Linked DNA regions of Homo sapiens: regions 2, 3 and 4 are each linked to region 1. The links come from fine-mapping of genetic effects on gene expression. A gene starts in region 1. Each other region holds a variant in brackets. All regions are shown on one strand. Distances are from middle to middle.

Region 1 (5,605 bases):
CTGGTCTGAAAGCGGCTTTTGAAATAGTTCTAAGCCTCTTAACCACGAGGTGGCAGCATTTCTTCAACAGGGGAGTGACAGCCCGTCAGTCCTCCCCCTCCTCAACTGACCAGTGGCTGTGCCTGGGTCAGGGATGAGACCTGAATGAGGTCAGAGAGGTCAGGCCATCTGCCCAGGTCACACAGCAGAGTTGAGGAGTCAGAATCTGAATCCCAGACCCTAGGACATGAAAATTACCTCCGTCCCCAGGCTCCAGTGAGGACAGGGAATCTTCCACCAGGGAAGGGTGAGGCAGAGAGGAGAGAGCACCAGGCTTGCTCTCAGCAAGACCCAGATGGCGAGACAGGGACATGGCAGCCCGGGGTGGGGGACCTGCACTGCAGGTGACCGGCTCTGCCCACTTCTGCCTGTGGGCTGGAAACGTCCTTGACTTCCACACTCGTCCATAAGAGGGGAGACTGGACTGGGGGATGAGTGATTTCTCCCAGAAACACTTGCCGATGCCACGGCTGTGCTCAGCACCTGCCAGGGACAGAGACCAGCCCATGCATCCTGCTGGGTGAGGACAGGGTGGTCTGTGCTGCCTGCGTGCAGAGGAGGAGGCTGCATTTCTTCCTGGGAAAGGGCAGGTCAGGAGAGCTTCCTGGAGGAGGGGGCTGTGGTCTCCAACAAGCCTATGATTCTAGATACTGTCTGGGCTCTCAGGGGCCAAGGGGAGGCCCACCCACAACACGGCACAAGCTCCAGCAGCACCCCACCTGCACACCTGCATGAGCACACACGCAGCGGGTAGAAAAGAGCCCAGAGGTAAGGCGAGGAGCAGAGGTGGGAGGAAAATCCAGGCATCAACAGGACGGAAAGGAAAAGTGTCGACACAGCGCACTGGGGTGGGGTATTGTGGTCCTGGCACATCCACTCGCAGGGCTCAGGCAGTTCTCAGGTATCCACAAACCCCAGAGAACAAGCGATTCAGAACCTGACACCCTGCACCCTTGAACCCACACACGGCCCCACTCCCGCAGGAGCCCAGATGTCTGCTTCTGATGAGAGTCCTGAGCACGGTTGGCTAGATGCACCCCCACACCTGGAGAGGCCGTGAGGCCAGACGGGAGCCCAGGATCCAGCCCCCAGCCTCTACCTTCCTGCTCCCCACCCCCGCTGCACACCCCTTGGGTGAGGTCGTGCGGGCAGACCTCCCAGAGGATCCCTGCGTCCATTCCCTCTCCGGGCCCCAGATCCCTCCAGGGGGCCCACGCCCCCTCCCAGCCCTTAGGGCCACTTCCGGAGACTTGCTGTCCACATCACAGCCCCAGCTGGGAGGGAGGGGTCAAGAGTTTGCCACAGCCCAGAGAGACTGTCCCGTTCCTGGAAAGACCCGGGGACCTTAGATGGCCTCTCACCCTGCAAAGTCCTGGCACCTGCTCCCTCGAACCCACCTGCAGGGCGCCCCTGCTGCTGTGTCCGACAGGAAAAAGATCTCACCCCCCGGCCCAGGCGTGGTGACCCTCTGCTGCCTGGGGTCCCGGCCTGGATGCCGTAGAGAGCCTCCCTGGTGTCCCCGTCCAGGGGAGAGGTCACACTACCAGTCCCAGGCCACATGCTGCCCACTTTGGAGACGTTCTCGCCAGGACCATAGGCGCGTGACCTACTGGAAGAAAGCTCCCGGGCCCCTGGGAAGCGACGGATCACACTCCCCAGAGGTTGCAGGGTGGAGGGTGGAGGGTGGGGGCAGGGGACGGCCTTACCGGCGGGGTTCCGCTCAAACTCGCACCCCGGCCGGGCAGCGGCGACGACCAGGACTGTAAGGAGCAGCAGCGGCAGCGGGGGCGGCATGGTGGGGCGGCGGACCTTGGACGGCCAGCGCAGTGATGTGGCACTCGGGCCGCGCGGGGCCGGGGCTCTGCGCTCGCTGGGCTCCCGCCCCCGGCGCAGGGAGGGCGCCCCAAACGCAAATGCCGGAGTCGGGTTACAGTGGGCAGCGCCAGAAGCTAGAGAGAGGATGCCGCTGGGGGAGGAGGAGGGGCAGGACAGCAGATAAAGGCCCCTGCCTGCCCCGGGCGGAGTGCCCCGCCCCGTCCAAGGGGCTCCCCGCCCCTCCTTGGGCCTCAGTTTCCCCATCTGCCACCTGAGTGCACTGTGGAGCTGGTATGCAGATTCCCTGCTGATCCTGCCTAAAACCCCTGGTCCCCTGCACAGGCTGCGTCGCGGGTGAATGCGGGTTCTGGCTGCAGCGCTGATCCCAGCAGACCAGGGCCTGTCAGGTGAGGAAAGTGAAGGCATGTCCCCACCTTTTGACCCTTGTCCCCTGTGTGGATGCGGGGAGGGGGCTTTGCTGGGTGGCTGGACCTTTAGGAGCCATGTGCCTCATGGGTTCCTTTGCCAGCTATACCAGTGCACCAGTAGCAGTCCCCAGAGCCAGCTGCCACTCAGCCAGCCCTGAGACTTAGGACAAGCCCCTTCGCCCAGAGGCTGGGGTAATGGAGACAGTACTCACTGTGGCCCCAACTCATTGCTGGCACCCAGCAGGTGCTGCTTCCTGCAGGTCATCTGCTCAAAGATGCCCATTTCAATACCCCCCGGGATCTGGGGCGCCTGGTGCTCAACCTTGCCCTCTCTCTGCCTGGACTCAGCTGGGTCCTTCCAGAAGCAACTCTGACTGCCCCGGCCAGCCTCCGGGGCCACAGTCTTTGACTTCCCTGTCTGAGCTTTCCAGCCCAGGTCTGAGGGCGAATTCAGACTCCATGCTTTCCCGAGCCCCAGCTGGCAGTGCACAGTCCCAGGGAGGGTTTTCCTCCTCCTCCCTGAGAGCTGGGGTGGGGACACCGTGCCTCCTTGTTGTCCCCTGCTGTGGCAGGCTTAGTTCTCGTGGACGCTGAGCGTTCAGCCGTGAGTGGCCCACCTGTTGAGGGTGTCTCCTAGCACAGCCCTCATTCTGGGCTTTTCCTTCCCAGTGGTACCTAAAACAGACAGTTTAAAATCAACGGCATTTTAGATTTGAGGAAATTGAGTGCTAGCTTGTGTCACTTTTTAAGACTCGGGGAGAAGAATTTGGTCATCTTTCCTGGAACCAGCTTCTCTCTTCCACAGTTAAGTTGGAAGGGACAGCCTCTAATCCACAGCGTCTCACCCACGAGGGCCCAACCCACCAAATGGTTCATCAGGGGCAAATCACAAGACAGGGTTAATCGTTCCCAGGGGTAAAAGAGGCATCCAAGTCGTCCCCATCACACCAAATCCCCAGACACTGTCCAGCCAGCCCAGCGGGCAATAGGCCACGGGGAGAGGACCCAGCCACACCTGTGCAGTCAAGGTGGGGCCAGTGAACCAGCAGGTGTGGCCAGAGCCAAGTCTGCAAGAGCACAGCCCCTGGGGCCGGGTGTGTGGTCCCATGGGGGGTGCCCTGCAGGACAAGTTTCTAGGAGAGAAGCCACTTTGTGTCATCAAAAGAGCACAGACTCACCGCTCAAAAGAGCGGCCCACCTTGGGGCTCATGAGGTTGGGGTAGGGTCAGCATGGCAGCCGGAGGAGCCTGTCAGTCGTTGGAAGCCTGCTCCCCAGCTGGACATGGTGTGTGCATGCCGGCATCCCCAGCACTTGCTGCAGAGCGGGTGCTGGGGATAAAAGTGGGTCTGACCCTGTTCCTACCCACCCTATGGCTGGACCCTTGAGAGAAGGGTGCTGGGGCTATGAGCACCTGAGGAGGGAGGGTTGTGTCTGCCTCAGTCAGGTGGAAGGACTTGGCTAAGCAGAGGAGGAGGAAGTACCAAGAGAAGGCCCAGAAAGGATCCAGGCCCCCTGGGGAGAGGCCAGTAGACTAGGGCACCCAGTACTTTAGCCCGAGGCCACGTAGATAGGAGTGGGGAGCAGTGAGGACAGAGAACAGAAAGGGCCAGCAATGCCAGGCTCAGGAGCAGAGACCATAGCCTGGGGACTTCTCAGGGCTTCTGGCAGGAACACAACCTGCTCTCAGCTGCATTTCTAGGAGCTGGCTCTGCTTGGTGGAGGGTGGGTGAGAGGAAGGACTGCTTCGACAGGGACCAGGAAGGGTTCTGGAGGCTTGGCTACGGATGGGTGCCCAGGTGAGGCAGGAGGGCGAGGGTCAGCAAGCACAGAGGGGATGGAGAGAGGGCTCCTGGCTCAGAACCCCTTCTGGCTGAGTTTTGTATCCCATGTGAACAGGAGGGAGGCTCAGGAGAAGCAGATCATGGTCTCAAAAGGACAAGAAGGCAAGCTGAGAGAGAGGACTGTCACTCTGGGCTCCCACAGGGCCTCCCTCTGCCTTACCCGTCATGGAATGCTGCAGCCCTCTGACAGATGGAATCAATAAAAAAACTCCGGTCCCCCAAATAAAATAAATGAGCAGTTATGTCCTGCAAGCTCCCTGCCAGCCTCACAGCCCCCACGGCTCTCTGCTTCCCGCCCACCCACGGGAAAGCCTCCCAAGCTTGCAGCTCCACCGTCAAAACAACAGGAGAAGGCTCCCTCGCTCGCTGCACACAGTGCAGGGCCTAGCCTGGAGGTCTTGGAAGCCCAGCAGGGGATTGCCTGCAAGCCCAGGCATCTAGAAAGCTCTGCTATCCTGGTAATTGGACTGTGGCTAATGCACGGCAGAATTCCCCCCTTTCCATGGAAATGAGACACCCTCTGAATAAAATGTTTATTGATTCACAGCATTCTTGAGACCCAGCATCATTCCACAACACGTTTAAGTGCACATGAAAAATATTTTTCAAATTAAAAAAAAAAAAAAAAAAAAGGCCACAAGCCTAAGGCAAGGGATAGCCCAGTGTGGGAGCCACATGGGCTGGCAGAGAAGTGCGGAGGGAATGCCCTAAGATGCCTGCTCCAGAACATTCCATGGAGCTGCCGAGGAAGGCGAAACATGACAGCAAGCAGTCCCCGTCTCTAAGAAACAGTGTGCCTCCCTCTAACCATGGTGCCTTCCAGCAGGGCAGGGTGCACGCGTTTCCTTGAGTGGCTCTAAAGTAGTGACCAAGGCTTTTAGCCTGGCGGAGATGCAATAACACAGAGTGTAGGCCCCACTGGCTGGCAGGCTCCTCGCACCTGGGGAGCTCCCAGGGACAGGAGAGGGCTCAGCCAAGGAGCTCACAGCCTGGGCTCCAGAACTTTAAATGGGGAACAACCTGCTTCTGCTGTGCACGTGCCCTCCCTTATAAGCACAGGGGCACCGGGGTGCAGCACGGTCTCGAGTTCACGTGCCCTCTGTGAACCAGGGCATGACACCCACCTGTGCCCTCTGTGAATCAGGGCATGACGCCCACCTGCCCCACCTCCTGCTTGGAACCCCTGGGTTGGATTGAACTGGCCAGGTCTGTATTTTAATGTTTTTAACTGCTTCCTGACCACATACCTATAGTTGTTATTATTCCAAACGATAATTTGTTTTATTTGAATTACACTTCATGGGTTATACACACCTTTAAATTTATCCTTTTGGGGGAGGCATTGGTGAGTCAGCAAATAACACCTGGTTTTGGCTGGGTGTGGTGGCTCACACCTGTAATCCCAGCACTTTGGGAGGCTGAGGTGGGAGGATCACTTAAGCTCAGGAATTCAAGACCAGCCTGGGCAACAAAGTGAGACC
Region 2 (5,605 bases), 32 kb after region 1:
TTATTAGATTGTAGCCTTGTCCAGGATTTTTCAATTTTTATTATTTTTTACAATTTGGACTGAATCCTACAATTTTTCCTGGCTACAAGTCTCCAGAATAATATTTTCAATTTTTTTCTTTCTTTTCATTGTTTTCCCTTCCATCTTCTCCTGATTTAGAATCACAAAAAAATTAAAGCGGTGCCTTTAAGCCCTGTGAGCTGAAGCTAGACAAACCTTGAAAGACAATAACAGCAACCTATTGATATATTAAGACCTAAGCTACTTTCATCCCTGCATACTGACTGACGTATGGACTTCAGAGGCATATGGCCTATGTCAGTTTTCCAGGATTGTTTTCCTTTTTGTTGTTATTCCTCCCATTGTTTTTCTCTTTTCCTCCCCTATTTTTCTCTGTGAGACTCGAGACTACATAACTTACTAAAAGTCAGCTTTCCTAACCACCTGGGACCTAAGCCATCTCAGAATAAACCATCCTAGCCACGAGAGACATCAGACAAAACCCAAGACCAGAGACTCAGTTTTCTTCTAAGATGCTTTCTTTGAAAGATTTTTTTTAATGGGGGTGGGAGGAGAAAAGTGAAAGGAAAATAAAATCTTGAGCACAATTCACTATGTCAACTGGAAGAACATTAGTCTGAAAGCCCCACTGTGCAAGAAGCTGCCTTTCCTCTTGTTCCTAAGCAGATAGAGAGCTACAGATAAAAAGTTATTTGCACAGATAGCAACTCTATGAGCACAAGACAAATACCTAATTGACTATTTCCATACCTGCTCCCTTTCTCTTGCAACATAAGGATTCACTAATGCAACCACACCCTCCCTTTTTCCCCTCCAGCCTGCTTCTCCCTTTTAAATATTGAGGCCCTCAAAATCATTTTTGGAGAATGGCACAGACCACCCACCGTTTTTGTCAATCTGTGTTCTTTTCTTCTGAGCAGGTCCTTAACCCTGGCAAAATAAACTTCTAAACTGATTGAGACTTGTCTCAGATACTTCTTGGTTTACAAGGATGATAGCAACAATGGTGAGGGTGGCGGTGCTGATAATGGCGGTGATGCTGGTAGTGCTGATGGTGGTCATGAAGGTGCTGCTGGTGGTGATGATGATATGCAATAATAACGAGGGTGATATTCACATTTAATTGTCCTCACCGTGTCCCAAGCCCCATGCTAGGAGCTTTTTTTTTTTTTTTTTTTTTTTTGAGACAGAGTCTCACTCTGTCGCCCAGGCTGGAGTGCAGTGGTGCAATCTCAGCTCACTGCAAGCTACGCCTCCCAGATTCAAGCAATTCTCCTGCCTTAGCCTCCCAAGTAGCTGGGATTACAGGTGCCTGCCCCCATCCCTGGCTAATTTTTGTATTTTTAGGAGAGACAGGGTTTCGTCATGTTGGCCAAGCTGGTCTCGAACTCCTGACCTCGTGATCCGCCAGCTTCAGCCTCCCAAAGTGCTGGGATTACAGGCGTGAGCCACCGCACCCAGCCTAGGCACTTTCCTGTGTTACCCCATGCAGTCCTCTCGCCAAGCCTATGCAGTAGATATTGTTACTCCCTCTATTTTTGGAGAGAGGAAACCACTACCCAGGGAGGATGAAAACCTCACCCAAGGCCCTGCCTGTGGCCAGTGGTGGAACTGAGAGACACAGCTGTTTACCTCCACGGGCTGTTGCAAGAACGCCTGAGATTAGGTGGGAAAGAGGCTGTGTGAAACGCCAAGCCCAGAGGCCTTCCCTGAGGACGGTCCCAGAGAAGGGGAGGAGGGTGAGAGCAGGAGGCCCCAGGAGGGGTTCAGACGCTTCCAGCAAACAGAGCAGAAAAGCT[G/A]GTTCTTTCACACCCAACAGACTGACTCAAAGGTCAGAGCAAGATTTGATTCAATGTCTTAACATCCATCATGCATCACTCAATAAACATTTACTGAGAGCCCCACACAGAGTGGTGAGTCTTAGGGAAATCTTCCCGGCTGTGCCAGCGAGCCAGGCTGGCTGCAGAGTCCTGGGCTCAGTGGGCCCCTCTTCGCCCCCAGACAGCTCCTCCCCCGGCAGCCCAGCCTCTTCCCAGGGGGAGCTCACTCACCTCCAGCCTCAAACCTGAGAGAAGCCCGGGCCCGGTGGAGAAGCGATTGTACTTACCTCTCTCCAGCTCCATGCACAGTACCCCGCATTGGTAACTGGAGATGGGCTGCAGTGGAAGTATTCACACTGTGGAACCGACAAACATTTCCAACCAAGGCTCCTGTCCTGCGGGGCTGGTTGTTCAACATCTACCAGCACAACACTGTCCAGGCCCCAACCCTCCCCCTAGCTGTGGCCTCTGCAAGGCCAAGTCTGGGGACCCTGAGGCATGGAGGAGGGGTGTACGAATGGCCTGCCTTAAGCTGCTGACAGTGTTGAGGCCCCACACGGCCCTGCAGCCAGCAGGCCAGTAGGAAGGACAAGACCCCAAACCAGATCCGTTTCCAGAGTTAAGGCTTTGCCGTTGATTGTCCTCCATCTGATGCCACAAAGCCAAACCCAGGCCAGGACGGATGCCTGTCCATGGGAGCGAGGGAGGGAGGCTACCTCTCAGCCCCTAGCACAGACAGAAACTAAGCATCTACCAAGCACGGCTCAGGTGCCATCTATTCAGATGGTGGGGCGGGGTGCCGAGGCTCAGAGAGAGTGAAAGGGTGAAAGGGTTTGTGGAGGGCCTGCCTGAATAACTCCAGCCTGTCTGACACTTGTGCCCTCGGAGAGACTCCCTAGATAAGGCTAGAGATGACCTCACCTCCTCAAATACAATGCAATGGCACCTGGTCCACTCTTGACCTCTGGGCTTGTTTAATCATGGGCCTCCCCCTTTAGAGGCAGGGGTAAGGGCTTGAACTTTGTGGTCTCTGCTAGACTCTGAGCCTTTCCAGAGACTGCACATAGTAGGTGCTCAACAAATAATTGTGGAATGAAAGAATAGTTGAAAAAGCCTAGTTCTCACAGCTGGATTATGACGATGGTATCAGTCAGGGTTCAATCAGAGGAGCAGAGCCAGTGGGAGGTTTATCACAAGGGATTTATTGCAAGGAATTGGCTTAGAGGATCACGGAGCCAGTTAGGCGAGTCTGAGGTCTATAGGGCAGGTCATCAGCGGGGCTGGCTGGAAGTTCAGATGGGCTGCAGCTGCTGCCCCCAGGATTGATTCCACTCTTAGGCCTTTCAACTGGCCGGATCAAGCCCACCCGGGTGATCTAGGACAATTTCCTTTAAAGGCAGCTGATTGTGGACTTTAATCACACCCACAGCTGATTATGGACTTTAATCACACCCACAAATACCTTCGGAGCAACACCTGGATTCATGTTCGACTGGATACCTGGGCTCATCGCCTGACCAAGCTGACAGCTAAGACCGACCCTCCCAATGCCCATCAGAGTGAGCTGAAGGCACAGCTCGTCAGCATCACCACTGCCCCTCACTGGGTGCCTGTTTGCCTGCCTGTCTCCTCTCGGGCTCCTTGAGGCTGGGGTCTGTGACTTGGTCTTCCCTCGATCCCAGGAAGTGAGCAGGTGCAAGGGAAATTTGCTGCCCCAAAACATGCAGGATGGTGACTGCCTCGCCCACAGCCCTGCTGCGGGAAGCTACAGCCTGGGAGAGACAGATTGCGGGTCTCTAATTTGGGTGATCCTGTGGTCGGTCGGCACCCCTTCCTGCTGAGGCTGAACCAGCATTTCCAGGGGCCCTGCCATCCACGCCACCAGAGATCTCCCTAAACTACATCAGTTTCTCTTTCCTCTCTTCCCACCCAAACTCACCTGTCCAGGATCTCGTCCCTGAGGCCTGGCTCTCTGCCGGTCAATGAGGGGCACAATGTACACCTTCACGGAGAGCTTCAAGGCCTGATCCATGGCATGAGGTGTGCAGCGTGCTCCCGACTTGGAGCCAGAAGACCCAGCTTTGGGCAGGCTCTGCAACCTGGGTGAGCCCTCACCCTCACTGAGCCTCAGTGTCCCTGTCTGCAAAATGGGGGAAGCAGCACATTCCCTCGGCACAGCCCGACTCTGGAACAACAAACGTATGCCAAGATGCCAAAGATTCTCACCCTCCCCTGCGGCTCGGTGCTGGCCAGGGAAATGGGGGCCGAGCTGTGGCCAGTGAGGGCTGGGCCTGGCTCCACACTCAGGATGATTGAATTCTGCATGGTGGCTCTGGCCGGGCTTCCCGGACAAGCCTGGGTGAGTCAGGAACAAGGCAGGCCTGGGTGGGGCTGGGGGAGGGCAAGAGTGTACAGCATGCCACCATGGCCATTCTAACAACACCTCCCCAGCATGGCACCCCGCCTCTCCACTGCCCCCAGATCCCAACTCCCACCCTGGAAACGTGGAACAATGGGAAACTTCACCCCCTTCCTTGGGGCACAACTGAGGCTAAGGTAGAGAAGGCGACCCGTGACTTCCTGGAAGGCCGGGAAGCAGAGAGCCCAGCTGACCCTCACTGCCCTTCCACGAGTCCCAGCACTGTCCCTGGCCCATTCTTCATCACTGCCGCCTCTCAGTGGGAAAGCCAGCCAAATTCTGTGCCAAGCCAGGAAGCCAGTCCTGGGGACAGGGTGGGCGAGCTAACAGGTAGGTGGCACCAAACATGCCCTGCCTAATCAGTGCCCCCCCACCGCCCCCCAAGCACACCTGAACCAGCTCCCAGGGTCCTCAGGCAGGTGCTGGGTCACAGCAATGATCAAGGAGGGGTGGCCTCTGGGGTGGACAGACAGACAGACCCGGGCACAGGGAGGTGAGGGATCAGGAGGGGCAGATGGGAGGCCCCCAGCCCAACCTTGAGCACTGGGGTGAGCTCTCAATGGTTGGGGCCTGTGCCGAGAGCTGTGGGCCAGGGTGGGAGCTGGGAGCAGGCTGGAGGAGTGACCGTGGCAGAGGGAGCGGCAGGGGTGCCAAACACTGCTGTGGTGGGCTGGGGGCAGCTCGAAGCCTCTTGTTGGAGCTGGATTCCCAAAGCAGCGGGTCAGCGGGGGCAGATGCTTTAAAGGGTCCTGTGCTGAGCGGAGGGTGTGTGGGAGGGGCACAGGTGTCCCAGAGCTGGGGAAGGGCTGCCCCACTTGTCCCGAGGAGAGGACGCCAAGGGCCCGAGCCCGGATGTGGCAGGGAAGGAGGCTCACAGCACCCACTTCACAGATGAGAAAACTGAGGCTGCCAATGGCCCCCGCCCATTTTGGCTGCCTTGTGATCATGTTGGCTCTGGGGTAAGTAACCTCTCTTTCCACATGCCATGAAGGGTTGGCACTCTGAGTACCTTCTTCTTTTCACTAAAAATTCCCTCCCAGAACCCACTTTCCGCTTGTTCACAGGACCCGCTGGCGGGGCCTCCCACCACAGTGAGGAGCCACGAGGGTCCCCTAGTTGGATGCTCAGGTCACACTGCCCTCGGACTTTCTGCACAAAATGCTCAGGCCCCTCCTCACCTCCAGGCCTCGGGACCAGTCACACAAGAAGTACTCTCCGGGTTTGTTTGTTTGTTTTTATAAGAGGAAAAAAATGCCCAACAGAAAACTGACAAAGTAAATGAACAGGAAATTCACCAAAAACAAAAAAACGTAAATACTGTATACAGATGGACCATAGCAAAACT
Region 3 (5,605 bases), 85 kb after region 1:
AACAAGAATCCCCATCTCAGCTCTGCTTCTAGGGAACCCGGCCCAAGGCTGCCCACTTCACACAGGGCTGCCCGCAAGCTCCTGCCTGGGCACCTTACACAGCCACTCACTCGCCACTGCCACTCCGGGGCAGCTGGCATCTTACACATGAGGCCGGAGAGGCTCAGAGGGATCAGTGCCACTTTCTGCAGTGGACTCCCTCCCTCCCTCCCACCCCACTCCCTTTTCCCTCCCTCCCTCCGTCCTCAGGGCTGCAAAGGATCTCTTTGGTTCCTTCAAAGCCTCAGCGTTGCACTTGCAATGAATGTCCTGATGTTTTTTGGTTACCAGAGAAGAGTTGCAACTACAAAATCTCCGACGCATCTGTGTTCTCTTTTCCAGTGTCCATAGTAACTCCCAGTGTTACTCTGTCATCTGCTCAAGAGAGGGGTGATGGCTGGGCCCTCTCTGAGTCCTGCCAGCTGCCAGCCCTCCAGGGCAACGGCCGGGATGGTGCATGAGGCTGGGCTGGTCAGTGGCACTGCTGAGAAGAGGAAGGGGCCCCAAAGTAGGCGGCGGGAGGAGGAGGAGGAAGGCAGCCAAGGACACAGAAGAGACATTTGCTCGGACAGCGACGTTCTCCCTCTTCACAGGTGAGCATCTGTAAAGGAAGGGAAGGGTCTCACCCCAAACCCAACAGACCAAAGCCTTGGGATGTATCAGCAAACACGGGGTTGTGTTTGTGTGTCTGTGGGCTCATGGGAGGTGCAGAAGCCAGCACCTCACACTCATGGGGGATCTGCCGCCCAAGGCGCCGCAACCCCATGGCCACAGTCGGTCAGCCAGACCCCGGCCATGAAGGCTGAGGATGGGGTCCCTTCCATCCAGTCCCACGGACACTTCCGAATGTCTGCACCACTCAGAGGTGACTCTGAGCAGACATCAGGTTCAACTCCGCAGCCCAGCAGAGGGGACGAGGTGGCCAGGCCTGGCTGGGGGTCACTTGGGGAGGGGGCTTGGAGACTCCCATGGGCTCCCCAGGCCCAACCAATAACCCACACAACAGACACAACCCATGGCACCCAGACCCACCCTCAGGGCCCGGCAGGCCAACCTCCAGCCGCAGCCCCTGCTAATAACAAGGTCACGTCCTGAAAGTCCCTCCTCACCCTCCCACAGCCATACGAAATTGCCCAGGGGCTGCCTCAGGACCCCACACAGAAACCTGAGCTGTAAAACTTGCCAGATGTGAGGCCAGGTATAGTGTCTCATGCCTGTAATCCCAGCACTCTGGGAGGCCGAGGCAGGCAGATCACCTGAGGTCAGGAGTTCGAGACCAGTCTGGCCAACATGGTGAAACCCCATCTCTACTACAAATACAAAAATTAGCTGGGCATGGTGGTGGGCACCTGTAATCTCAGCTACTCGGGAGGCTGAGGCAGGAGAATCACTTGAACCTGGGAGCTGGAGGTTGCAGTGAGCCAAGATTGCACCGTCACGCTCCAGCCTGGGCAACAAAAGCGAAACTCCATTTCAAAACAAAACAAAACAAAACAAATCAAAGCAAAAACTGCCAGATGTGAGGCCACACCTAAGCTTCCCAGGGGGCCTGGGCTTTCTGGGCTCAAGGCTCTGCCTGCTGCCGGATCTGTCACTGGGGGACGGGGCAGGGGTGAAGGAGCGGGGGCCGGAACACGCTGTGTCTCCTCAAGTTTTTCCTGGACTCCTGTCTGTACATGGAGCGACAGCCCTGCCTCCAGGTGACCAGGGGCAGGACCCAGGATCCCAGCAAGCATGCTTGTTTGAACACTTTTTGGATGCAAGTAACAGAAATGAATTCTGGCTTCAGCCAGGAAAGAAGAAAACAGAAAGAAGGAGAAAGAGGAGAAAGGAAAGGAGGGGAAAGGGGAAAGAAAGGGGAGGGAGATGGCAGGATGGTCCCAGAACCCACAGGCAAGGATGCACGCTGAGCTCCGGAACGCCCAGAGCAGGCGCTGGGGGAGGATGGGAGTGCTTCCCGCACGCAGCCTTCCCTCCCGGGGTTTTCAGCCACATCCCTCTGGGTACAGTGTTACTCAGCAGAATAATTCACTGCCAGGCGATTCTGGGCTTCTAAACTATCAGCCAGCCCCTCAAATAGACTTGTCCTTCTTCGTTCACTTCCCCAATGTGGACACGCCCTGGCCTCGCCTGGTCGGGGGCCCCCATGGTGTGAGCACGTCCTCTGCTGTGCCCACATAGGCCAGGGCTGAGGTGGAGGGAAAGAGCCCCCTGTGCCTGCTCGGAGCCGGCCACACTTCTGCAGGGAACACAGCTCCATCCAGCTGTGGGGGCTGAGCTGGGAAGCCCTGAAAGGTGCCTGCTGGCCTCCAGGCCCAGGCCAGGTGGGAACCTGCTGTGGTCGCAGGCCTCCTTGTCCCTTCAGGCAGCAGCTGACTCCCTGTCCACAGCCAGCTGCGTTCCAGTGGGGAAGCTCCATCCCAGGCCTGTCTGATGACAATTCCACAATTCCACCCACGCTGCCTCCAGGAAGCTCTGCTGATGAGGTTCCCGTGGCCCTGCCTGTTGCAGGCGGCTGACCGAGGGCCAGCAGCCCAGCCAGCCCA[G/C]CTCACCAAGCAGCATTTCTCACTTGGAGCACGGCAGAGCTGGAGTTGTTTTTATATTTGTGCCAAGAAATGGCTCCAAGCACTGCAGACGTGGGCTCTGGCGGAGCCTCCAACAGGGCAGGCCACGCGGGGCCAGCAGCCTCCTTCCGCCCAGGGGCTGGCCCAGGAGGTGAGAATTCCACAGAGAAGTGCACACGTAGCACTTGGCCCGCTCCCCCTGGGGCAGAGCCATCACCTCCCAGCCCGAGAGGACCCCAGGCTGAGGGGGGAAGGGGCTGCCCAGGTCACACAGGGACCCTGGAATGCGGCAGAGCCCAGCACCAAAGGTTAAGTGAGGCCAAATCAGCAATGAGCATGGAGTGGTGCCCGGGCTGGAAGGACAGTCACTACCTCCCACCCCAGCAGGCGGCTGAGGGCTTCTTTGTTTTTGGTGGAGTCAGGATCTGGCTAAACAGACTGTTAAAGAAATGCGGAATTCCAGTCCATGCCGTTTTCTGGGTAACAGAGGGTTTAGGAGAAATCCCTTCTGCTCCACTTCTGTTGAAAATATTTCTGCACTCCAAGCGCCCTCAGCAGTGTCAGCAGGGCACAGCCCCTCAGCAGCTTGTGACACCCACGTGCCCTGGTCTCAAGGAGGTCCCCAGACATTGCACTGAGCACCAGGTCTCCTTGTGAATGTCCCCATGAGAGCAGGGAGTGCCCCTTCTCTAGCTGGTGTCCCATGTCCTCATCAGGAGCACATACTCAGGGCCACACAGCCCTCGTCCCCAACTATGGTGCTGTGATTTGCTGTGTGTATTCGTCCATTTTCACACTGCTGTGAAGAAATACCCAAGGCTGGATAATTTATAAAGCAAAGATGTTTACTTGACTCACAGTTCCACATGGTTGGGGAGTCCTCAGGAAACTTACAATCATGGTGGAAGGGGAAGCAGGCACATCTCACATGGTGGCAGGAGACAGAAGTGCAAGAAGGAGGAAGAGCCCCTTACAAAACCATCAAACCTCATGAGAACTCCCTCACTATCACCAGAACAGCATGGGGGAAACCGCCCCTGTGATCCAATCACCTCCCACCAGGTTCTTCCCTCAACACCTGCAGATTACAATTCAAGATGACATTTGGGTGGGGACACAGAGCCCAACCATATCAGTGGCCTTGAGCAAGTGTCTCAGCCTCTCTGTCTCTGCTTCCTCATCTGAATGAGAGGGTGACAGTGAGGACTCCCATCTCTTAGGGTTGCATGGGCATGAAACAGTGCAGCTAGTGCAGCGGAGGGCAGGCACATTTGCTGCTCCCCTTCCCCCACAGGGCGTGACTCATGCCCCCCACACCGGCTGCCTGTCCAGGGCCACGGAGGAACCCTGGGGATCTCCATCCACCCTACCACGTCTTGCAGACTAGGATGCCCGGGCTGCAGAGGTGCTGGGAGGTCAAGGTGGCAGAGCTGGGGCTGAGTGCTGGCCTCCCAGGGCAGGAGGCTCCTCCTGCACCCTTGAGCCTGGAGCACCCTCCCTGCATCTGGCCTCAGTGCACCTGACTTCCCACAGGCAGAGATGCCACCTCCTCAGGGGCTGCAGCCTCCTGTTCGCAGATGGAAGATGCAGCTCTGAGGGGTGAGGAGTCACAGCCGGAGCAGCACCCGGACAGAAGCCTGCTCCAGCCAGTTTCTGCCACCTCTGTCCTATCTCTCCTTTGAAAGGTGAGGGACAGGGACCTAGAGAGGCTGCCAGGGCCCTCAGTGTAGCACCGCCTCTTCCTGAGAGGTCACGCAGCCAGGAGAAAGGACAGATCAGCTGTTGTTGGTGGAGGGAGTGGGACATGGAGGGGGCATTCCTCTGCGGCTGGGGGCAGCATGCAGGGGAGGGTGGGTAGAGCAGAAGGTGAGTAATGACCAGAATCAGCAGGACCCAGACCAGGAGGCTGGGGGAAGTGGTAGATACAGCAACAGGTACCCTGCGGGGGCCTATTTAGAATCCAGAGAAGTGGCGTTCAGCCCCAGGGAGCTCAGGGACTGGGGTGGTGAGGCAGACGGGGCTGGCACTGGCAGGGCAGGGCTGCCACCATGGAGTGCAGTTTGCAGGTGCAGCCAGGGTGCCTGGGTTGTGACAGGGGCAAGAGCAAGGGTTTGGAGCAGACCCTTGAGACCCCAGGAAGAGCTCTGCCAAGCTTCAGTGCCCTCTTCCCCACAGGGAGGATGAAGGGAACTTCCTCCCGGGTGGAAGAGATGAGCTATTGAAGGTGGATACAGACTTGGCGCAGGTCCACACCCAAGGATTGGCAGGACCTGTGCACACTACAGACTCGGCACAGGTCCACACCCAAGGAATGGCAGGAGCTCCGTACACGCTGGGGGTCAGCATGGAGCCCAGGTCTGGACACAATGAGTGGGGCGGGGCAGGAGCTGCTGGCTGAAAAGCTGGAGCTGGCACAGCTCCAGGGGAGGAGGGCAGCAGCGCAGGCCCGGGAGGAAGAGGGAAGGCAGTAAAGCTGGCGCGGGTACCTGGCGGGGAAGGGAGCAGGCACGGGCAGAGGGGATTCCCTGCCTTAGTGAATGGGGGCCATTGCTCAGCCCTGCAGGAGCGCAGGAGACTTAGGTGGGCCATGGGGAAAGCCGAGGAGGTGGGGACATGAGCAGCATGGAAATGGTGCTGAATCTCAGGCTGAGGGGCTTACACCATGCCATGTCCATTCCATGCAGTGCAGACCCCTGATGCAGCCCCTGCCCCGCCCTGAGACCCTCCCAGCAGCCACCACCAAGATGCCCACCAACCTCAGAGGCTCAGAGGCTGGAGGGGGAGCAGGAGAGAGCAGGTGTGGACGGGTGCGGGGACTGCAGAGGGCACCACAGGCTCGGGAGCCTCGGGGGAGACGCTCTGTCCCATAGCTTGGGAGCGAGGCCAGGACAGGCTGAGGTTTGCAAGCCTTGGCACCGAGGTGCGTGTGAGGGCTTGCTGGAGACGAAGCTAGCCAGGAGGATAAGAACAAGAGGGGCTCAGAGCCTTCCGGAACTCCAACA
Region 4 (5,605 bases), 99 kb after region 1:
CAGACCCGATTCTCCTGCCTCACTATCAGGTGCAAGACAAGGACAGGGTGTGCGCTGAGACACGGGTGCTGCCTGCTCCTGATTCTGGAAGGAGATATGAGGCAGTGATTTCCAAGCTTGCATAATTTGAGGGCTGCCTTTGTGATGTCGTCCCTCTCCATGCACCAAATAAACTGTCACCTAGTTAATATTTTGTATTTAGTTGACCCACTTTTTTTACTGAAATGGATTCATTTTGAAAGCTCCACTTCATCACCAATGAGAAACCACCATGCACCATGACTGGAGGGTGAAAAACAAAGGCATGCCCCCCAGACTAAAACCCGAGTGTCCCTCTGGTCAAGGGCCTCACAGGGAAGAGCCCTGCCAGGAGGCTGCAGCCCAGCGTGGAAATCCTGACTCTGGCAGTTGCTGTGTGATTCTGGGCAAGTCACTTAACCTCTCTGAGCCTCAGTTTTCTCCTCTATGGCATCAGGTCACTAACACCCCATGGGGGTTTACCTATGACAATGGATGCAAACTGCCCAAGTGCAGCAGGACTGTGAGGAACAGACAGGGGCACAGCTGCCTCCTGTTCCAGGTGTGAACAGTCTCCCTACCCTAACCTGGGGTCTCCAAATGTTCTGTCTTCCCCTGACTGAGGACTCTCATGGTGGACAAGTCAGGTGGTTCCAAACAGCCATGGCAGCCATTTCCTGGATGAAAGCCCGTGTTGGGAAAGAGCAGCTGGGAGCTGGTGAAAGCACACCGTTCACCCGTGTTTAATGCTTACCATGCACTACATCGCGATGTTTCAGTCCACCACAGAACACACCTACGACGGTGCTCCCAGAACACAATCACCAAGCCACGGGGAAGAGTCAAGCTGGGAACTGCATCAGGCAACCTGCCTCCCATTTTATCCCTATATAAGACAGCTGCAAAGACTGGAAGAAAAAAAAAAAGCTTCATACCTCCCTTGGGTATTTGAACCCAAAATATCTGAGACAGGCCTCAACCAATTTAGAAAGTTTATTTTGCCCAGGTTAAGGACACACCCATAACACAGCCTCAGGAGGTCCTGATGACATGCACTCAAGGTGGTCGGGCACAGCTTGCTTTTATACATTTTTAGGGAGACATGAGACATCAATCAACATATGTAAGATGAACACTGGTTTGGTCTGGAAAGGTGGGACCACTGGAAGCAGGGGCTTCCACGTCACAGGTAGCTAAGAGACAAACAGTTGTGTTCTTTTGAGTCCTCGATCAGTCTTTCACTGAATACACAACTTAGTCTGGCTCAGTGAACCTGCATTTCTACTAAGATAAAACAAACGTAGGGCACAGGAAGCCATCAGGTATGCATTTGTCTCAGGTGAGCAGAGGGATGACTTTGAGCTCTGTCCTTTGTCCTGTACCTGTGAATATCAGCTCTCCATTTACATTGTGAGGGTGAAATTTAACACAACTGTTTTAGGGTGAAGATCTTGGGGCCCACAAGGAATTTCCTAGGGAACAAATTGTGAGGGAGGTATGCAGCTTTTTAAAACCTATGCAGCCATCTTATTTAGGAATAGAATGGGAGGTTAGCCTAATGTAGTTCCCAGCTTGACTTTTCCCTTTGGCTGAGTGATTTGGGGGTCCCGAGATTGATTTTCCTTTCACACTTTGTGCGTCCCATCACCCCACAGCTGCCTCACACACCTGGTGTTTTCTGCATCTCTCAGTTGCACACTTTTCTCTTGTGCCTGATTTAATCTCGTGTGGTTTGTTCATCATGGTCCCTAAGCATACGAGATCCACAGCTAATGTTGCTGGTAAGAGACCAGTAAGAGTCATTATTGCCAGTGACTGACCTGAAAACGAAATGACAAGTGACTAAGGACCATGAAGGTGGAAAATCAGAGGTGGTTATGCTCGCCAGGCAGGCAGGTCCCATTCCACCAGAGCTGTGGCCCTGATGAGCAAGGACAAAGCGACAGCTGCTGAAAGAGCCAGCCTCTGTGAAAGCAAGGCGACCAATGGAAAGTGGAGGCCAAAAGGATCCGCTGCGCTGAGAGCAAGGTGACTAACGGAAAGTCGAGAGGTGCCTGGATCCAACATAGACTGAAGACCAGACAGAGGAGTGAATGCCTCTCAGCACTGTAACTGCCCAGAGGGTTCTCCTTGCCCACTGCCTACACCGAGCTGATGGATCAAAACAGGAAATTTGCAATAAAGAGCTTAATTCATGCAGAGTCGGCCGTGTGGAAGACCGGAGTTTTATTATTATTCAAATCAGTCTCTCTGAAAACTCAGGGATTGAGGTTTTTAAGGATAACTTGGTGAGTAGAGGGCCAGTAAGTCGGGAGTGCTGATTGGTCGGGTCCAAGATAAAATCTTAGGGAGCTGAAGCTGTCCTCTTGAGCTGAGTCCATTCCTGGGTGGGGGCCACAAGACCAGATGGGCCAATTTATCTATTTGGGTGGTGCCAGCTGATCCACTGAATACAGGGTCTGTAAAAGATGTTAAGCACTCATCTTAGGTTATCACAGGAGCAATTTAAGGAGGTTCAGAATCCCGCCACCTCCAGCTGCATTACTCCTACACCATAATTTCTAATCTCATGGCAAATTTGTTAGTCCTACAAAGGCAGTCTGATCCTCAGGCAGGCAGGGACTTTGTTTTGGAAAAGAGTTGTTATTGTCTTTGTTTCAAAGTTAAACCATTGTGAACCCCAAATATCTGAGACAGGTCTCAGTCGATTTAGGAAGTTTATTTTGCCAAAGTTAAGGATGTGTGCCCGTGACACAGCCTCAGGAAGTCCTGACGACATGTGCCCAAGGTGGTCGGGCACAGCTTGGTTTTATACATTTTAGGGAGACATGGGACATCAATCAGTATATGTAAGGTATACATTGGTTCCATCCAGAAAGGTGGGACAACTCGAAGCAGGGAGGGGACTTCTGGGTCATAGGTAGATAAGAGGCAAACGGTTGCATTCTTTTGAGTTTCTGATTGGCCTTTCCAAAGGAGGCAGGCAGAGACGCATCTATCTCAGTGAGCAGAGGTGGCTTTGAGTTCTGTCATTTGTCCACAAGGAATTTCCTTGTGAGGGAGGTATGTAGCTTTTTAATCGTAGTAGCTATCTTTTTTAGGAATAGAATGAGAGGCAGGTTTGCCCTAAGCAGTTCCCAGCTTGACTTTCTGCTTTGGGTTAGTGATTTTGGGGCCCCAAGATTTATTTTCCTTTCACACTGTAAACTAAGTTCCTCCCAAAGTAGGTTGAGCCTACGCCCGGG[G/A]ATGAACAAGGACAGCTTGGAGATTAGAAGCAAGATGGAGTCGGTTAGGTTAGTTGTCCTTTCACGGTCATAATTTTCTGTTATAATTTTTGCAGAGGCGGTTTCAGCACCACGGCGGTCATGGCCAGAGCAAAAAGTATGTTTTTGATGTTGAAAGGAAAGGCTGGACCTGACTTTGGTATCAGATTTACTGCCAGTTCCGGGTGGTTTACATGATTTGAGGATCGTTATGCATTACATAATGTTAACATGAATGCTGAGTCTGTGGGTGCTGATGTGAAGGCAGCTGAAGAGTTTTGGAAGCTTGATTATGGAGGAGATTTACTTGCCACAGCAAATCTTCAATATGGAGGAAACCTCGCTATTCTGGAAACAGATGCCTGAAAGAACTTTTGTATCTGCCCAAGGGGTTTTTCCTGACCACTGCACAAAGAAAGACCATGGCATTTTTGTAGAGAAAGAGTTTAACAGACACAAGGGTGGCCACGCCATGTGGGAGACTGAGTTGAGAGGTGACAGCGTGCTGGCAGTCCTCACAGCCCTCGCTCGCTCTCAGTGCCTCCTCTGCCTGGGCTCCCACTTTGGCGGCACTTGAGGAGCCCTTCAGCCCACCGCTGCACTGTGGGAGCCCCTTTCTGTGCTGGCCAAGGCCACAGCTGGCTCCCTCAGCTTGCAGGGATGTGTGGAGGGAGAGGCGCGAGCGGGAACCGGGGCTGCGTGCAGCGCTTGGGGGCCAGCTGGAGTTCCGGGTGGGCGTGGGTTTGGCGGGCCTGCACTCGGAGCAGCCGGCCAGCCCTGCTGGCCCCAGGCAGTGAGGGACTTGGCACCCGGGCCAGCGGCTGCAGAGGGTGTACTAGGTCCCCCAGCAGTGCCGGCCCACCGGCGCTGTGCTCGATTTCTCGCCAGGCCTTAGCTGCCTTTCCATGGGGCAGGGCTCGGGACATGCAGCCCGCCATGCCTGAGCCTCCCACCCACTCCATGGGCTCCTGTGCGGCCCGAGCCTCCCCGACGAGCACCACCCCCTGCTCCACGGCACCCAGTCCCATCGACCACCCAAGGGCTGAGGAGTGCGAGCGCACAGCGTGGCACTGGCAGGCAGCTCCACCTGCTGCCCTGGTGCGGGATCCACTAGGTGAAGCCACCTGGGCTCCTGAGTCTGGTGGGGATGTGGAGAGTCTTTATGTCTAGCTCAGGGATTGTAAACACACCAATCAGCACCCTGTATTTAGCTCTAGGTTTGTGAGTGCACCAATCGACACTCTGTATCTAGCTGCTCTGGTGGGGCCTTGGAGAACCTTTATCTCTAGCTCAGGGATTGTAAATACACCAATCGGACACTCTGTATCTAGCTGCTCTGGTGGGGCCTTGGAGAACCTTTATGTCTAGCTCAGGGATTGTAAATACACCAATCGGCACTCTGTATCTAGCTCAAGGTTTGTAAACACACCAATCAGCATCCTGTGTTTAGCTCAAGGTTTGTGAATGCACCAGTCGACACTCTCTATCTAGCTGCTCTGGTGGGGCCTCGGAGAACCTTTGTGTCGATACTCTGTATCTAACTAATCTGATGGGGACGTGGAGAACCTTTGTATCTAGCTCAGGGATTGTAAACGCACCAATCAGCACCCTGTCAAAACAGACCACTTGGCTCTACCAATCAGCAGGATGTGGGTGGGGCCAGATAAGAGAATAAAAGCAGGCTGCTCCAGTCAGCAGTGGCAACCCGCTCGGGGCCCCTTCCACACTGTGGAAGCTTTGTTCTTTCGCTCTTTGCAATAAATCTTGCTACTGCTCACTCTTTGGGTCCACGCTGCTTTTATGAGCTGTAACACTCACCGCGAAGGTCTGCAGCTTCACTCCTGAAGCCAGAGAGACCACGAGCCCACGGGGAGGAATGAACAACTCCAGACGCGCCGCCTTAAGAACTGTAACACTCACCGCGAAGGTCTGCGGCTTCACTCCTGAAGCCAGCGAGACCACCAGCCCACTGGGAGGAATGAACAACTCCAGACGCGCTGCCTTAAGAGCTGTAACACTCACGGCGAAGGTCTGCAGCTTCACTCCTGAGCCAGCGAGACCACGAATCCACCAGAAGGAAGAAACTCCGAACACATCTGAGCATCAGAAGGAACAAACTCCGGACGCACCACCTTAAGAGCTGTAACACTCACCGCGAGGGTCTGTGGCTTCATTCTTGAAGTCAGTGAGACCAAGAACCCACCAATTCCAGACACAGAGTCACTACTCAAATCATTCTCATCCAAAGCTTGTAGGATAGGGGTTTTTCAAAGGCAGTTTCGGGGAAGGCGTGGGGGTGGCCAAGGAACGGGTGCCTGCTGCTG

Direction of the effects. Alleles are on the strand shown, and positions count from the first base shown. SD is a standard deviation of normalised expression in the study named. Not every link is listed here.
For the expression in esophagus mucosa of the gene that starts at base 1,902 in region 1, allele A in region 2 goes with a lower level than allele G (small effect, 0.22 SD a copy in GTEx).
With allele G in place of A in region 4, the expression in subcutaneous fat of the gene that starts at base 1,902 in region 1 is higher (small effect, 0.30 SD a copy in GTEx).

Evidence for each region. PIP is the estimated chance that this variant, and not a neighbour inherited with it, causes the effect. A credible set is the group of variants that fine-mapping cannot tell apart.
Region 2: its variant is the best candidate, but not a certain one, in a credible set for the expression of CPZ in esophagus mucosa (GTEx, PIP 0.67).
Region 3: its variant is the best candidate, but not a certain one, in a credible set for the expression of CPZ in lung (TOPMed, PIP 0.78).
Region 4: its variant is the best candidate, but not a certain one, in a credible set for the expression of CPZ in subcutaneous fat (GTEx, PIP 0.50).

Annotation. Positions count from the first base shown.
Region 1 is chr4:8,589,062-8,594,666 of GRCh38, reverse strand. CPZ (carboxypeptidase Z) reads right to left here and starts at 1,902. Exons shown (of 11, transcript NM_001014447.3): 1 at 1,746-1,902. The coding sequence starts at 1,833. GPR78 (G protein-coupled receptor 78) reads right to left here. Exons shown (of 3, transcript NM_080819.5): 3 at 4,644-5,605. RefSeq lists an enhancer at 225-899.
Region 2 is chr4:8,557,157-8,562,761 of GRCh38, reverse strand. No RefSeq gene overlaps it. Among named protein-coding and RNA genes, the nearest start is that of GPR78, 20 kb to the left of the region's middle. RefSeq lists an enhancer at 2,077-2,791. The variant G/A (reference allele first, on the strand shown) is at 1,821.
Region 3 is chr4:8,503,833-8,509,437 of GRCh38, reverse strand. It overlaps a transcript of TRMT44 not described here. Among named protein-coding and RNA genes, the nearest start is that of TRMT44, 66 kb to the right of the region's middle. RefSeq lists an enhancer at 4,369-5,256. The variant G/C (reference allele first, on the strand shown) is at 2,586.
Region 4 is chr4:8,490,138-8,495,742 of GRCh38, reverse strand. It overlaps a transcript of TRMT44 not described here. Among named protein-coding and RNA genes, the nearest start is that of TRMT44, 52 kb to the right of the region's middle. RefSeq lists enhancers at 4,085-4,603, 4,711-5,427. The variant G/A (reference allele first, on the strand shown) is at 3,264.